Regions from separate parts of the Homo sapiens genome. Here region 1 is linked to region 2. The links come from fine-mapping of genetic effects on gene expression. Tissue or cell type: liver. Region 2 holds a variant in brackets; the other region holds the start of a gene. All regions are shown on one strand. Distances are between the middles of the regions. Region 1 holds the start of PRICKLE2 (prickle planar cell polarity protein 2). Region 2 has its middle 42 kb from the start of PRICKLE2.

What was found. PIP is the estimated chance that this variant, and not a neighbour inherited with it, causes the effect.
Region 1: it holds the start of PRICKLE2, and the variant in region 2 is fine-mapped to the expression of PRICKLE2 in liver (GTEx, PIP above 0.99).

What each region holds. Positions count from the first base shown.
Region 1 is chr3:64,221,353-64,229,694 of GRCh38, forward strand. PRICKLE2 (prickle planar cell polarity protein 2) reads right to left here and starts at 4,114. Exons shown (of 8, transcript NM_198859.4): 1 at 3,558-4,114. RefSeq lists a silencer at 4,001-4,295.
Region 2 is chr3:64,262,875-64,271,216 of GRCh38, forward strand. It overlaps a transcript of PRICKLE2 not described here. Among named protein-coding and RNA genes, the nearest start is that of PRICKLE2, 42 kb to the left of the region's middle. The variant T/C (reference allele first, on the strand shown) is at 4,253.

The DNA of each region.
Region 1 (8,342 bases), 42 kb before region 2:
AGAAAACGAAGTCTCCAAACTCGACTGACTCAATCCCCAAAAGAGATCTTCACCCCTGCTTGATTCATACACACACACACACACACACACACACACACACACACACGCACACACACAGCATAAAAACCAGAACATTTCATTTTAAATGTTTACAGGTTAAGACAGAGCAAAGGGGCAAATGTCACTCAAAAGCATCAACAAAGAAAACAGATTTGGCCAATATCTCATCCTCAAGCTTCTTAGTTTGCAAATAGCTCATGGTCACCAGCAGTTCCCTGTTTATAAGCACCACAGTCATGGAGGGAATGAACAGAGAAAGGTTTCAGTGGATCTTTAAGCACAAAAGAAAGTCTTTATCCAATTGCCACCCAGAATTCCTATCTGAGGGACAGAGCCTTTTGACTCTTGTGTGCTTACAGACAGCACAGAAGAAATGACCACAGCCTGGGGGCTACTAAATAAAGAGGTTTCTGCTAATTCGAGGCAGGCAGTGCAGTTGGGTCATTGAGCCCTTCTCAAATTCAGAGTGTTTGGAACTGATGTTTATTAAAAGAAGCACTAGACGGGTACCACGGTTTGTCATCTGCTATGTCATTTTACTTGGATTTCCCAAATACCTTGTTGTTATTGATTTCTAATTTAATTCTATTGGCCTTCAGTTTCTCCGTTAAATAAATATTAAAATTACTGCCCCCTGTTGTTCACAGATCGGGATTAACTGGGAAATATGCTCAACATCCAGTCAGTACCAGGAATTGGGCAAGGGCATTATAGCCGCTATCTTCACAGCAATCCCATGCATTCAGGGGACTTTATTTCCAATATTCATATGAGGAAGCCAAAGTTCAGAGAGGTCAGGCAACTCTCCTGAGATCATACCTCCCATCAGGAAGTAAGGGAGGTGGGCTGTGGTTAAGGTATAAATATTATTCTCCGTGCAAAACACAACTCTACTAAAGATCAGTAGCAACCAGGAACGACCAACTCCCAGTTCCGAGTTTCTTGGGAAAGAATTTTATGGCAGACTCCTCTCACTCTTGTAATTCACTTTTGTCTTTCAGATCCCTGTGTCAGAGTTCTAATTCCCCAAAATTAAAAAGAAAGATCTTGGGAGGAAAGGGAGAAACAGCAGTCCACTTGTGTGACAGAAGTAGGCCCACCGGCATGAAGGAGGCAGACCACGAGCCTGGCAAAATTGTGCCATAGCAGTGACACAAAACAAAAGCAGACAGACTGGGCCATGGTAGGCAGGCAGGCAGGGGAGGGCTATTCCTTTCCCTTAGCAGCCAACCCATAAGCTGAAGGCACCCAGATGGTGGCAAAAATTCAGCCTTGGAACTTCTGAGGAGCCAACCAGCAGGTTAAGCACATATTCAATGGCCTCCCTGGATAGAGAAGAAAATGCTCAATATCTGCACTGAAAAGAATTAAGAAAGAAAAGGACTGTCTCTCACATGCATAGGTGAAGCAGAAGAGAAATCTAGAAATGCATTGATTCCAACTGGGACCCCGCAGCTTTCTACATGTGACTTGTCAGCTGCCAAAACAGGATGCCTTCTTTAAGGCTGCCTAAGCCCCAGTTAGTTCTAAATGATTTTCATTATACCAGCTGGTCACTTTCAGTTCTGTGAAATACAGTAGTTCTGGATAATATACTTTATTCTGTCAACTCAATCAATAGGGTGGAAAGTTTCTTTGAGTGGGAATCATTTGGATATAACAGTACCAGAGATGGCATCTTTTCTGCTAGCAAAACCTTTCTGCAGGCAAATGGATGTGAACATGTTGCCTTTTCAATACTGTTTTTTAGCAACAACACTTATAATGATAATGACAAAATGGTAACAATGACAACAACAACAACAACAATAGCAGCTAATATTTACTGAATATTTACTATGTGGCTGCCACTGTGCTCTGCATAGGTCATCTCATTAAATCCTTACACCTATCACCCTAACTATAGATTCCATTGCTCTCTCCACTTTACTGGCAGGAATGGGTAGCTTTAAGTATCTTCAGCTCTTTCCAGCTCCAGAGTCTGAGCCCTGGATAAATATCATCTCATACTATCTAACCTCTAAGTTCCCTTCTCATTCTTTAAGCTTCCATAAATGCATCTTTCTTCCTCTATTTCTATTTTATTCCCTCACATTTCATGGGTAAATCTTTATAAACACACCATTTCAAACAATGCTATTTTACTCTTTCTGGCTGCCCCGTGAATCTTTATAGACTGAGATGCCCGATGGAGCCAGTATGTTTTAATTTTCACATGAAAAACAGAATTCCCAAGGGGAAGGAGCATTTGATGGAAAGGCAAAACCTTTATAAGCACTCAAGGCATTAAAATCCAAATTTCCAAAATATGGTAATTATGTCAAAGTTGTGACTTACTCTGGAGCCCTTGGGGACCCTCATCCTGACCCATCTGTGAAAGCCATCAGCAGGCAGTAAGCCTTCTGAGGAGCAGGATTACAGCAGCCAATTTGGCCTCTAGCAAAGAGGCAAGGCTGCTTCATTTAGTTTAAGTCTCACTGAGATGGTTTAAAACACTCTTTGGGAAGAGATGTGCAGGCAAAGCAAATCACAGCCTTACCAGCTGCAGATTCAGTACACGGCAGTCTATGTCTACATATTCATGGCACACTGGAGCCCTCCCCTGACTGTGCTCATACATGCATTGATATGGGAAGCAGAACTCTCTCACTGGGGAAATAATCTATGTGCCTAAGTTAGACAAGAGCCACATTTGGACCAGCGGATGGCATCACATCTGGTATGGATCGCTAACCTCAGTGTGATTTGGCCCAGCCTGGATTATTTATGATTCATAAAAGTCCCACTGGACCCCAGCATAGTCCAAGACCACATAACAAAAAACCATGGGATTAAAAATCTGTATTTCATTGCAAGACCCCCATGGCAAATTAGTAATGCTATGATTGGTTTTCGAGAAGCCAAGAGTGAGGAGAACTAACTATGATCACTCCCTCAAGAAACCCAGCATAGAGGGCAAACCGAATCATGTGTTCAGCCAGGCTATGCAGTCATATTCTGAAGCTCTGTCACCATTTCTAATCTGAAAGCAGTGTCTAAAATTAAACCTAAATAATTTGAAAGCCATTTCTTTACCTGGAAGTCTCAGCTGAGTCCTTGTTCCTCAGATCCCCTAATGGTTTCTGACATCATGTGTTGAAATGACTACTGTACATGAACGCTATCAGGTATTTGGTCTGTTAGCCCCTTTCCCCATATTATTATGGTTTTTTAAAGAAAGCTACACTTTTAGAGAAACGCTGCTTCTTCTTAAGCATCAAGATTTAAGCGTTTCTTCAGGACTCCCTAGAGCTGTGACATAACACTTTGTAATCGAGCTTTCTAATCAGCATAGAAAAGGCAAAAGGGGTCGCAGGGCCACCAAAAATGCTACCTGGCCAAGAAAACGAAGACCCAATATCCTCCCCCAGTGCAAAGGCCCTAGATCTGGCTTTCTCATCCTCCTTAGAAAATATACTGCTGTTTAATTTGTGAATTAGAGCAAATTTCTTACCCACCTCCAGGGAGGATGAAATGCCCAGTCTCGGAGGAAGCTTCTGCCAGACCCTTGGAGCTTGTCAATTGTCCCAGTTCACTTTCTCCCTGGATCTGACTTCTAAGAACGCAAGCAGGACCTCAGGCAGCCAAAGCATCTTCTCCTCAAACCCCCTTTTCAGTCTGAACCCTTCCTGAAGCTGGCAACAGACTCAAGCCGAGCTGCTCCACATTCCCTCAGGGAAAACAGCACTGCTGGATCCAGACTCTGCTGGGGAATTCACCAAGCAAGAGAAAAAAAGTATGACTTCTACTCTTCCTCTAGATCAGCCTGAGTGCTCAGATCGCCTTCCGGAGGACCCCCAGTTTCCTCTTAACTCCCCTTCTTCATGACAATCTGAAGGAAGAAGTCATAGACTCCAGCCCAGCGTCACCAGCTGATCCTGAGCCAGACCCGGGGTGACTAGTCAGCTGCTCACAGAGCTCAAGCCACTGAACCAGGAAATGTGCTGCTTGGTCAAAAAATAATAATAACTCTCGGTGGCGCTGCTGGTGGTGCCTGAGAAGTCGCTGTTGCAGTGCTTGCATCCTCCGCATGCTAATGAAGCTGTGATGTCAGCAAGTCAGTCACGGCATCTGGACGTCCCATCCTGCTGCCCAGTGCTGAGATTTATTTACATGTAAATTAGCCTTGCCTTCCAAATCAATAATCCCCAAGCCAGGGAGAGGGGAAGGAAGCCTTTGCTGGATGCAAAGGCCCAGCTACGTAACCTCCAAATGAGCATGAAAAAAATCACATATAAGAAGAGAGGCTTTAAAGACACATGCCTATTTTTTTTCTTCTTAAAAGCTGTGCTCTTAGGTGCCAAGGTTCAGATCTGGGCACAATTATCAACCTGAGCGCCTGTTTCAGATTATATGCTGCACCAACCTAGGAGTGGAATCAGAGCACTCTTTTTTTAATTAAATGCTGTGTCAAGCCTTCAAAAATGCCTCTCCTTTTTTTTTTTCTTTCTCTTCTCTCTTCAACTTTCATTTTCGGGTGTTGCTTGTTTTTTGGCCTGAGACTATGTCACCTTTGAGTTTTTGTGCACCTCGAAATAAAGCACAAGTGACTCCTTTCCTCACGTGCTTGGGTGGTGAGTCAGTCAGCTGCCCTTTAACCCCTTACCCCAATTCCAACTGCATGCAGAAGAAGACAAAGCATAAACCTTCCCAGGGCATCTGAAGACCCTGAGACCCTCAGAGAGCATTGCTTCCATCTCCTCATTTTACAGATTAGAAAATGGAGACAACTGGAGAAAGGACTTTTCTAAAGTCACACCAGGATTTCAGCAAGGATGGGTCAGAATCCACATTTCCTAGACCTCAGATAGAGCTTTTGTTGAATACCTTTGGGGTCTCCGAGCTCCATTTTTATACACCACTAGGCGGCCTAACCAAGCAATCTGGAAGAAAGGAATCTATACATTTGGAGAGCCCTGTGTTCAAATCCTGCCTTTCCTTCCTGCTAGCAGTGTGATCTTAGGCAAGTAACTTAACTTGTGGGATCTTCAATAACCTCATCTGTACCATTCACTCATTCAATAAATATTTACTAAGCACGTACTCTATGCCATGCACAGCTCTAAAGGCTAGGTATAAACACAGTCTCTGCTTTCAAGGGCCTTATGGGCTACTGCAATTAAAGAAAGTAAAATATTGAATAGAACTATGGTGAAGATTAACACAATATCACATACTCAATAGCTATTTCTGATATTTTGAATGAAGTTAGAAAAATTCACCGAGGCATACTATCTACTAGGCTGATCACTGTTCCTAGCATCTGAGTATTTCCATGGTCATCTTTAATTGTTTAAAATCATATATTCCTTCAATGCTGCCTGTGCAGTATCCCGGGCCAGGAGAGAGGCAAGAGCCAGGCAATATTCTGGACTCTGTGCCTGTGATAAGGAAGCACTGTGAGTGAAAGTAAAGGGTGAGGGAAAGGTTGGGGAGGCTGGGAGGGAGGAATATTCCATCATGCACAGAAGTGTCCCAAAGGACAAAGCAGCTAGCACGGCTCCTTGCCCACACTCCCCCGCCTGGGGAACCCACTCTGATGAGCTCTGCCCTTCCAGCTGCAGTTCCTGAAGCTTCAAATGAATTTCTTTGTTGGATGTGGGGAAGTTAAATTATGTCTTTTGTTGTATGTAATTGTATTAATAATGCTTAATAACTTCTTTCAGAATGCTTCTCTCTAGTTCCCAGAAGACCTTTCATGGTGAAAATCATGAGACCTGGAATAACTTCTCAGTAAGAGAAATAAAATACAAGCAAATGAATAACACTCAGCCTTCAGTTTCCATCACACAGAACTCAGAGCGTGTAGGGAGGCAGATGGTCTCCCCAGACCTCAATATCCTTCAAAAAGTCAATTAGCAAGTCTAACAGTTTGGGGCCCCCAGTAGCCAAGTGGAAGCAGTGACATTCTAACCCAGTGTGGCCACGAACAAGTCACTTCAACTTTCCATGCCTCAGTTTCTTAAAAATGGGTACACTACTCTCTCATCTACTCATGATCAGCATGGTCATATAAGAGGCAATTCACAGGTGATCAACAATGAAATAAAGAAGACAGCTGAAACATAGCAAGAGATTACTCTTCACCTGGAACAGATGTGACACATCACTACCAACTTCATAAGAATTAACATCATAACATGGAGTCTAAAATGGATTGCCTGGGGTCAGACTCTGGCTGTGACACTTGCTAGGTCTATGACTTGAGGCCTGAGGTCCTTATATGTAACCTAGGGCATAATGATAGTGCCTACCTGCATGGGGCCATTGGGAGAATCCAATGAGCATTAATGTGAATCATTTAACACTGAGCCTGTTACATAGCAAACACTCAATAAGTGTTAGCTATTGGTAATATTAATAGAAACAATCATGCTTCCACCATTAACTTCAGCGCAAATTAGTTAAGTAACCAGTTAAAATTCAAAAGGTGGGGAGAAAGCGGTAAAGGGAAGACTGCAAAATCATCTTTATTCCTAGAGCATATCTCAAAGTTCTATCTAATGTGGGTGAGCCACTGATATGCCATTTTCCATATGATACAATACAAATGCTTTGAACTGCTATGAATCTAGGAAATAAAGGAGTAAAAATGACCAAGAGGCGGGCTCCCTCTTCTGAAACTATACACCAGGACAAGACAACTATATTTTTGAGATGAATACATGCTTCACCCATTCATTCATATATCCATTCACTCATTAAATAAGCTCCTACTATTTGCCAGTCACTGTGCTAGGGTCTGGGGACAACATGGTGACCAAGATACACATGGATCCTGCCTTAAAAGAGCTTGGCAATCAGAGAGAAGACAATTAAGTAGGCAATTAGAGTAGAATGGGGTGTGTGTTATGGCAGGAGGCATGCAGAGTCCTCAAAGGCCTAATTGCATTCAAGAGAGGGATGGCACAAAAGCATGCTGCCCAAGTCCTTTTGCCAGCACACGCTCTGTGAGCTCAGCTTGGTGATGAGGAAGCTGGATATCTATGCATCACACTTACACAGAATATTAAAATTACAAAATCCACAGATTGTTAATTCCCTGTGGTCATTATTTTCATCCTGGAGACCATTCTAATGAGGTGTTTTTTTTTTTACAAATTATACTGGTAGGTATTAGAAAAAGTGAGAAAAAACTACTTTAAAAATTTCAGAGACTTAGTAAATAGGAACAAAACTCATATTGTTTTTCTAAAAAACAGTGAAATTCCACATTCATGACAGCAAACTTCATGCGAGTAAAGGCAGGGAAGAACAGGTAATACATATGAGAAACTCAACCAAATGTTTATTAGGGATTTGTGAAGCGGAGGACACTCTTGTCAGGAGACAAGGATGCAACTGTCGACCTTCAGAACTTTCTGTTTAGGTAGAATGATAGGATATTTATACAAATGACCATAATTGCATATAGTATATAGGAAAAAGGACAAGGAAGACAAAATTAATTATGGCAGAGGTGATCAGGAACCAGGAAAAGTATGATCTGGGTCAGGCCCAAGGTCAAAAACGCTTTTACTTTTTTGGAATTAAAAAACAATTTTATAGTGGGGGAAGGCCTTACTAAGCATGACACAAAATCCAGAAGTAGAAAAAGGCTGCAAAAATTTGACCTTAGTCAAATTCACCTTCTGCTAGAGGTGTTCCAGGCAGGAATAAGAACATGAGTAGGAAGGAAAATTATGAACACAAATGCATAATTAAGAGACATCTGCATGGACACAAGACAGCAAAACAGCAGCAACATGACACTGGCAGGTAATAACAAAGAGACAGCTCCATGCATGCTGGAAAATCAAATCATCTTTCCATTCTAGCCAGCTTTAGGCAGCATCTTGTTAGAGGATTACAGGGAAAGGTCAAGTACATCTCTACTGGTCAGGTTACAGAAGGGAAGGGTAAGTGACAGGAAGGGTGGTAGCCTCCTAGATGAAGAGCTGTAATGAGGAAGGCTGCAATGAACAAGTTTTAAATCTCTGTTTCTACAGGTATAAAATAAGAAGGAATGGATTTAAACGACCTAAAGAGGGTCCTAAATTCCTCTTTAGGTCATTTAAAATCTTTCTTGGACCTAAGGAAGACTTCTGAATATTGAGATAAGAACTGACATGGGTCACTCAAGGAAATGGCAGTGTTTCAGTTTTTGGAGAACTTTAAAAAGACAGACATCACTCATCCTAGCTCATTTAGATTACTACCTTCTGGCCCTGCTATTGGGAAATTCTAATTGTTGTAAGGGATAT
Region 2 (8,342 bases):
GTAAATGACTTGTCCCATTGCTAATAAGTGGTGGAGCCACCGTTTTGAAGTTTAACAGCTTCCCCCAAGTGTGTTCTGTGGCACATTAAGAGGTGAGGCTGAAAGGGGGTTCCAGGGTCACATTAGCACAGAACATGCAACATCAAGCCTCAATGGGTTTCTCTACTCCAGGCCTTCTCATAGCCTTTGAATTGTGATGGCTCAAGAGGGAGATGTAAAACATCGTATGTTCCACGCACACATGGCGCCTTTTTTTGTTTTCTTTTTTAGAAGAGCAATTCACCAAACAGGTATTCCCAATATCACAGTAAGAGAACCACTGCTAGAAGGCAACATGAGTAAGTTTTCAAAATGTGTTTAAACAAAGTCCAAAGTGCCTTCTTGGACATTACATCACTTGTACCCGAAGGAGAAAGGGTCGACATGAACATACCATTTTACAGATAATGAAGCTGAAGCTCATGAGGTTAAGTGGTCTGTCCTGTATCCACAATTCTGCAGCAATTAAGCAAGAAAAATCATTCCTGGTCCATGTGCCCCAAAGACTAGGAGAAATCAGGTCAGGCCAAGGGAGAATCAGGCAAGAAGCTTAAATGAGGCTTTGTTCAGTCTCTGCCTCTCCTCTTTACAATATTCCCTTTGAGTTCACTTTCCACAGGATTACACTCAGAATGGGGGGATATACAGAGAATGCAGGAAGGGCTGCAAGTGAGCTCAGGCCTTGAGCATTAGGAAATGGCTTCAACTTTCTGGGGCTGTGTAGGGTGAGGTCTTGTGAAAGGATCCTGTGGGAGGCATTATGGATTGGAGGCAAGAAAGTGGCACCTACATCCAGGTAGAAAGGGCCCTTGATGGAAACATAACTGTCTTAAGAATTCCAAAAGCTGCAGGAATTAAAAGCACTTCACAGTCAATCAGCCTTATCTTGGGTCATCTTGGTTCAGAACTTAAAGAACCCAAGGCAAATGAGCTGAACACTCCTCAAGTTGTTGCCACGAGGGCCTCTGCCCCATGTGGTCTCCCTCAATTCCATCACAGTGGATTGTCTAAATGGGGACCTCATGGACTGCTGTCTACAGAATGCCAGCATCCTAGAGAAGCAGGCTTCGGCAGAGTGGCGGCAGGGCAGTGGGAAGGGTGGTTACTGAGTATAAATTATAAAGAGAAGACCGCCCACCCCACCCCCCACTCCACAACCCGCCAACAATCCACCAAGAGCAAATGCTTGAGAGCACAGGCTGCATTTAAGAAGCATCCCAGGTAGATGCTTGGAATTAGACAGTTGTAGGTCCAGGTCCCCCGCATGGCCACTTGGTAGCCTTGTGTCTCAGGGGAGTTACCAAACCTCTTTGAGCTTATCCTTCATCATCTGTGAAATAGGCTGGCTGATGGCACCAACCCTCATAGGGTTGTCGTAAGGGTTTTTCAGTAATAAAGAGCAAACAGCGACGTGCTTCTCAAGATAAAGTCCAGAGTTCCACCTGGATATTTCTTAAATGCAGATTTCCAGGTCATACTACAGACCTATGAAATAGACTCCCTGAAGGATATCCCTATGCACTATAAAGTCTGAGAAAGACTGGTAAGACGTTAAGTCTGTGCTTGGCAAAAGCTCAGTAAGTTAACAGGCATCATTCTGTTTACTGATGTTATCATTTATAATATGGCAAGATGAGACCTCTTCTCCAGCCTGGACAACTTAGTGTTCAAAATTAGAATTTATCTAACATCCAACTCAACAGATGTTTGCTTATCCCCAGAAGCCTGAACAGAGCCTCAATCATCAGAAAATATAAAACAAAACCAGTGACTAATTACAGCAGCCTGGGTGAATGCAGAGTAACCTTTTGCAAATGTTCCCAAGAGATCAAATAGTAGCTGTTTTAAAGAAAAAGTAGTAAGAAGCAACCTTTGAAAGATGTGATAAGCAATGTCACGTATACGCTCCCTGTGGATTGGCATCTTGCCTGGGAAGATGCTTTGTGAAGAGGGAGAGACCCTAGTGATAGGTACAAGGATTTCTCTACACAGGCTGGCTGTTAAAAGTCAAATATGAAGCAATTCTCAAAGGCCTCTGGGCTAATCTTGCAGGGAGATCATTCATGAGTTTTCCCAGACATTGAGTCCCACAGTACCTGCGTCTGTTCCCTCCGCTACCCCTACATCTTCCATTCTTCTGGAAGTTGTCCAGATTACAATCTTTGCAAAAATGAGCCTTCCTTTGCTGGTCACACAGAGGAGCAGGATATGAAAAAACATCACCAACAAAACAAAACAAAGCAAAAAGAAAAACAAAAAACAAACAAACAAAAAAAACTGAATGGCAATCAAATGCTAAGTATCCCAGAAAAGAATTCCTCACCATTCAGATTTTGAGAAAATAAAAAATATCAAAGAAACTTTTTTGGAACATCACATTTAAACCTCAATACAATTTCCATAAAGTCTCATTATATTCAACTAGGATTACCATTCTGTGTTTTAGTAGCTAAAAAAAATCATTCCCTCTGCTTCCTCTCATTGACATCAGAATATCGCACAGAGTTTATATTCACCTAGCGCTCTCCTACTTTATGATAGTGATAGGAAGTGCTTAATGTGACTGAGTACTTTTCAGGAAAGATTAAGAAAAACAGCCTGGGGAGCACAGCATCTCTGAGATTTGGTTTTCTAAATTATTTTTAAAAACCCACAGATCTCTGCATACACAGCTACACAAAGCAGCACGCATGTCCCTCAGTTGCCTCTTACCGTCTTTTCATTGCCCATTTTCTATATTGTTGATGTACTTCAGGGCAAACCCAACACAAGACCACTTAGCCTGCTCTGCAAACAGCTCCACAAAGACCATAAATGTCACCACCAAATTGGTGAGTGCTAGTTCAAACCTTTGCACCTCTCATTCCTCGACACATCTGTGTCCCTAAGGATAACAATTCTGGCTTAAAAGAAATCTTGGGAAAAGAAGCCAAGAGTTTTTCCTGTTGAAGCTAAGTGGGAGGAGGCTAGTGGGGAAGTGGGCTCGATAAAACTGTCTCAAAAATAAGTTCCATCTTAAGCTCACAGAGGGAATGAGAGAGTTATTTCAGTTTCTTAAATGGAAGTACAACCCCGAAAATAAAAAATAAAAGGCTTGTTGATGCAGAGGCTTGAAAGCCTGTGTGAGATTGAGGGTATCACTGAGGAAAGACTGCCTTGTAACAGAGCTTTCTTGTATTACACCCAAAGCTGTGTACCATCTGAGGCTGATTCAGGAAAATACTCAAATCTCCTGGTAATTTCCTGCAGACAGGACGTTTAATCATCTCCAAGCCTCCACCGCAAAAGAAAAAAAAAAAAGCTAAACCAAATGATTCACACTCTTAAAACGAATCTGCCTTCAGAAGAAGAACGGTTTTCTGGTCTTGAAAAGCAGCCACAATTTGTTATTCTAACAAAGTGTTCCTTTCCTCCAAACAGAAATAAAAGTTGCTCAAGGAGGGCTTGTCCTGATTTCTGTTCTGCATTTCTTGAAACTTCCATCCAGTCAACAGTTTCTCCTGGCAGGTTCTCAGAAATCCAGAGAGAGCTGGGTAGTCAGTGACTAAGAACACAGGATCATTTTTATATGCCTCCCTAACCCCCACTTTTTGGCCCCATGGGAAGATGCTTTATTGTAGGATGAGCAGAATCAGCTGCATATATAAATTCTTCACTGCCCAGCTCACTTGACACCTTTATCTGAATTGCCCAACAGGCTGGGAAGATTTGGCAATTGATGATTTGAAAAGGAAAGGCCCAGATCTTCCCCAAGTGGTATTTGTTCTGTCTGTACAGACAGGGCCATGTCCATGTCTCTAATTACTCAACTAGCTGCACAGATAAAAACATTTGCGTACAGAAAGCAGGGAACTCAAAGTATACAAATGATTCACACCACCTAAACAACTGCAAATAAAGGCCGGCCCAGCAAAATAAGGGCTTCTAGAAGCCAAAATAATTTAATATGGGCGGAAATGGAATTTGGCAATCCACACATCAGACTCTGCTCCAATTTTGGAAGGCATGTCTTCCAGCTGCCTCATCTTAAAAAAAAAAAAAAGTAAACTGACCCTCTGCATTCGATTCTCAACCTCTTGCTTAGGTACACACAAGTGAACAGATGGGTGGGGGGAGCTGAAACCTCATCTTTTAAATCTTACCCAGCACCTACCCACAATCTTTCCTGATTATTTTGGTTTTAAAATTTCCCAGGGCACGGCTGCCCAGGCAC[T/C]CCAGATTTGTAATCCCAACCTTCACCAAGTCCTGACTCTTCCAGCATCTGAGAGGGTGCATTTGGCAACTTGGAAAGTAAGAATTAACTCTCTCATCTCCAAACTATACACTCCCCCATGTAGAGCTAGGAAGGGCTAGGAGAAGGGCCCTCTCCACCTACCCCAATTCAGAAAGAACACATTAACAAATCCAGAGTTGCTTCATTACCGAAGTCCACCAAGAAGCAAAGAAATGGATTTTTAAAGTTCTGGGAAAATAAACAACTTTTATCTTTTCGGGGATATAAGCTCAAAATATAAAGGTATGTGGGAAGAAGTAAGTCATGTTTTAAAGTAGATCTTCCTGGAGATGTTAAGAAATATTTTGAATAGAAAATAACTAGGTCATTAACAGTAAATACCTTTTAAATATTTAGGGGAAAATGAATTCTAAGAGAATAAAGGCTATTTAAAAAGCAAGTCCAGGGATGTTTTCATGTTCCCTCTTAAGTAGTCCTAATACAATAATACCACCATCGCCTCGTGATATTATGATTACCATTGCTGGTTAATAAAGTGGCTGCGCGAAAGGTGGCTGACACTCAGACCCTCAGTTCACCAGGTCCCCACCGCGGGGCTCCTGACTTCCCAGCGTCTGGGTGGCAAAGCGCATCTCTCCCAGAGCTTAGTTTCCAGCTGCAAGGCCCCTTTTTCAGGGGAGCTCCTGAAACCAGGAGCAAACATGCCCCTGCGCCGCCCTCTGTGCTCCCCGGCTATGGGGGGGCCACTTACCCGGCTTAGCCTTGCATTGCTCCGACGCTGCGGCGCCTCTGCCGGCCCGGGAAACTGCGGGGGAGCCGGGGAAAGGGGGTTGGAGACCCAGGGGCAGGGGTAGCGGCCGCAGCTAAGGAACCCAGCGGGGCGTCGGCAGCCAACTGCCCGGAGCCGAAGGGGGCCCTGCAGGGGCTCCGCACAAGGCAGGTAACATTCCTGGGGCGGCAGCTGCTCTGTGCGCAGCTCCGGATCCAGGAAAATCGCTCAGGTCCTGGGGAGAGGAGCTCCAAGCTCTCTGGGCTGCCTCCCGGCTGCTTAAAGGGACACCTCCCCACCTCCCACTCAGCTTATTGGTGAAAATCTCGAGCCACAGGCCAATCCTAGGCCTGTTCCCAAATTGAGATTTCAATCAAGGGAGCTACTACTTTAAAATTAGAAAGGGCTAATGGAGTGCTGAGCCACCTTTCAAAAGCAGAAGGACACAGGCTCTCTGGCCCTCACACCAGAGGTCCTGAGAGCTGGCAGTGGCTGGAAGAGAAAGATTCGACTGTGCCACGCACACAAGGAACAGGGGGCATGCTGGAATCCTAGGCTTCACCCCTCCTGTGCCCCCCTCAACCCACTGCTGTCCTTCAAGGCTCATCCAGTTTATCACAGACACTGGAGGCCTTCGTGGCTCTCTGCTCTTGGTGCTCCTAAAGCCTTTGCTTATGTCTCTTTTCAGCCACTCATCACATTTTCACTTTTTTGCTTAATCTGTCACTCCCTTTACACTGTAAATTCTACCTAGGTAGGAATGTTTTTATCAAGACATATCACTCCCTACCTGGAACGTCGTGAGCTCTCAGTAAATGTTTGTTTATTGATTGAATGAATGAATACACAAAAGAATGAACAATGGAAATATGTCCCATGTTGGCTATGCCAGTACAATTGTTAATTAAGAGAGTAGTCAAAAGGCCAGGCATTAATTTCACACAAAACTGTGTTCATATATGGACTCTCCCTCTTACAGGTAGGTAACCTGCATTTTAGTTTCCTTGTCTGTAAAGCATGATCATGAAATTTACCATCTCATAGGGTTGTAGTAAAGATTGCATGAGCTCATGTTTAGTCCAGAGGAGGCACTCAGTCAATAACCTCGGACAACTGAACAGTCAATAGCTGTTGTTATCACTGCAATTAAAATACATTTGCTGGAGATTTGGACTGAGTCTGACTGCTGATCTGACTTTGTAGTGAGCACAGTTATTAATGAAACAAACGTGAGTTAAGTGCCAGCTCAGTGCCAGGCCCCATGCCAGGTACTAGGATCATCAATGAAAGATAAAGTCCTTGACCACAAGTAACCCATAGTGGTGGCAGGCGGAGGAGGGGAGAGAAGGAAACAGACGAAGTGAATTATGCTAAATGATATACAAGCAAAGACATATGTAAAGGAATGTTTATTGTAGGATAGTTTATAAGATCAAAATAACTGAAAACATAATTATCCAATAATACAGGACGTTAGTAAATTATGATACATCCATATGATAGAATACTATACAGTCATGAGAAAGAAGAGGAAGAACTAAGTGCACCAGTATGCACTGAGCTCCTCAATACATTGCTAAGTACAGTGCAGATAGTAAAACATATTTCTGCTTGCACAAAACATCTTCATGTATTACGTATGTGCACATACATATGCTGTATATGCAAAAAGTACTTCTAGAACCATGCCTAAGAAAATGATAAAGGTTGTTGTTACTGACAAGGTGATTTGAGGCCTAGGCAGATCTAAGAGGATAAGGACACTAACGTTTCATCATATGTCCTTGTATATTATTTGAACCTTTTACCATGAGCTTGTAACAAGGTCCTGGTTCTGGCAAAATGGCAAATGATGACAACCTGAAAATTCCAACTCTTCAAATACCTAGACATGCTAGATAAAATATAACAAAAATTATTTTAAATGCCTAGCTGACTCACAATAAAGAAAGGAAGGCTGGGCACGATGGCTCACACCTGTAATCCCAACACTTTGGAAGGCCACACCAGGAGGATCATTGAAGCCGTGAGTTCAATATCAGACTTGGCAACATAGCAAGACACCATCTCTACACAAAATAAAAAACTAACTGGTTGCAGTGGTGTGCACCTGTAGTCCTAGCTACTTAGGAGGCTGAGGTGGTTGGTTCGGCCCAGGAATTCAGGGCCACATTGAGCCATGAGGGCACCAATCTACTTCAACCTGGGTGACAGCATGAGACCTTACATAAAACAAAAAAAAACAAAAAAAACAAAAAAAAAACCACAGGAAAATACCAAGAAATAAAGAGGTAATTAAAAACAAGAGTAAGAAGCATGCAAAGTTATGCTGTGGCTATGAGAGAGAGGGAAGAGTGGTTGGTGGCAGACAAAAGGGTTGTCTTGGTTCCCTAGGGGCTAGGATTGTAATGCCCACACAGGAGACAGACAGTGCCTTGGGACAAAGAGAAGCAGGAAGCTGTTACAAGACCTTTGTAGAAAGCCAAAAATATTCACTGAGGGCTGCACCTTCAATGAACAAATAGATTGGAAAAATTGACAACCACCTAGGTAAAACTTGTCTGTCTCTACCTGTATTGTGGGTGAGAGGGAAATGTTTTAACTGAGAATGAGAAATCCTAGGGCTGTGCCTTTCATGAGATTCTAGGAATAACAAAAGTCAAAATCAGGAAGCTCTGACTAAAAAAATTAATATTAAAATTAGTCCTGTTCGTGACATGCCAGGAATGCCTTATAGAAACAAATGAAGATTTCTCTGGCCACTTCTACAACCCAGGCTACAACCAATCCCACAAGCATGAGATCCCAACGGTAAATTATACAACATCCAAGAAACTGATGTTACAAGTCAACAAATAAAAGAATAAGAGGCTCAAGAATTACAGGTCATAAAACAATTGACATTCTGAAAAGAAACATGGAATGAGAAAGTTTATAAGGATTTAAAACACTGAAGCTAAAATTGAAACCCTTAAAAAGAACAAGACATGATGACTACTCCTCTCCATAGATCCACTAAAATTAAAAACTCAAAGGACAGGTTAAATAGATACTAGTAAAGCAAGAAACGTAGATCTCACGACACTACACAAATAAAGCACAAAAGGATAAAGAGTTGAAAAATATCTGAGAGATAAAGAGATATGGAGAATATAATGAGAAGGCCCAACGTCTGTGTAATAGGACTCCCATAGGGAGAGACCAGAGAAATCAGGAAGAACCAATAACTGAAGATATGATGGCTGAGAATTTTCTGAAATTTTTAAAAATCATGAATCCTCCCATTCAAGAAGCACAAGC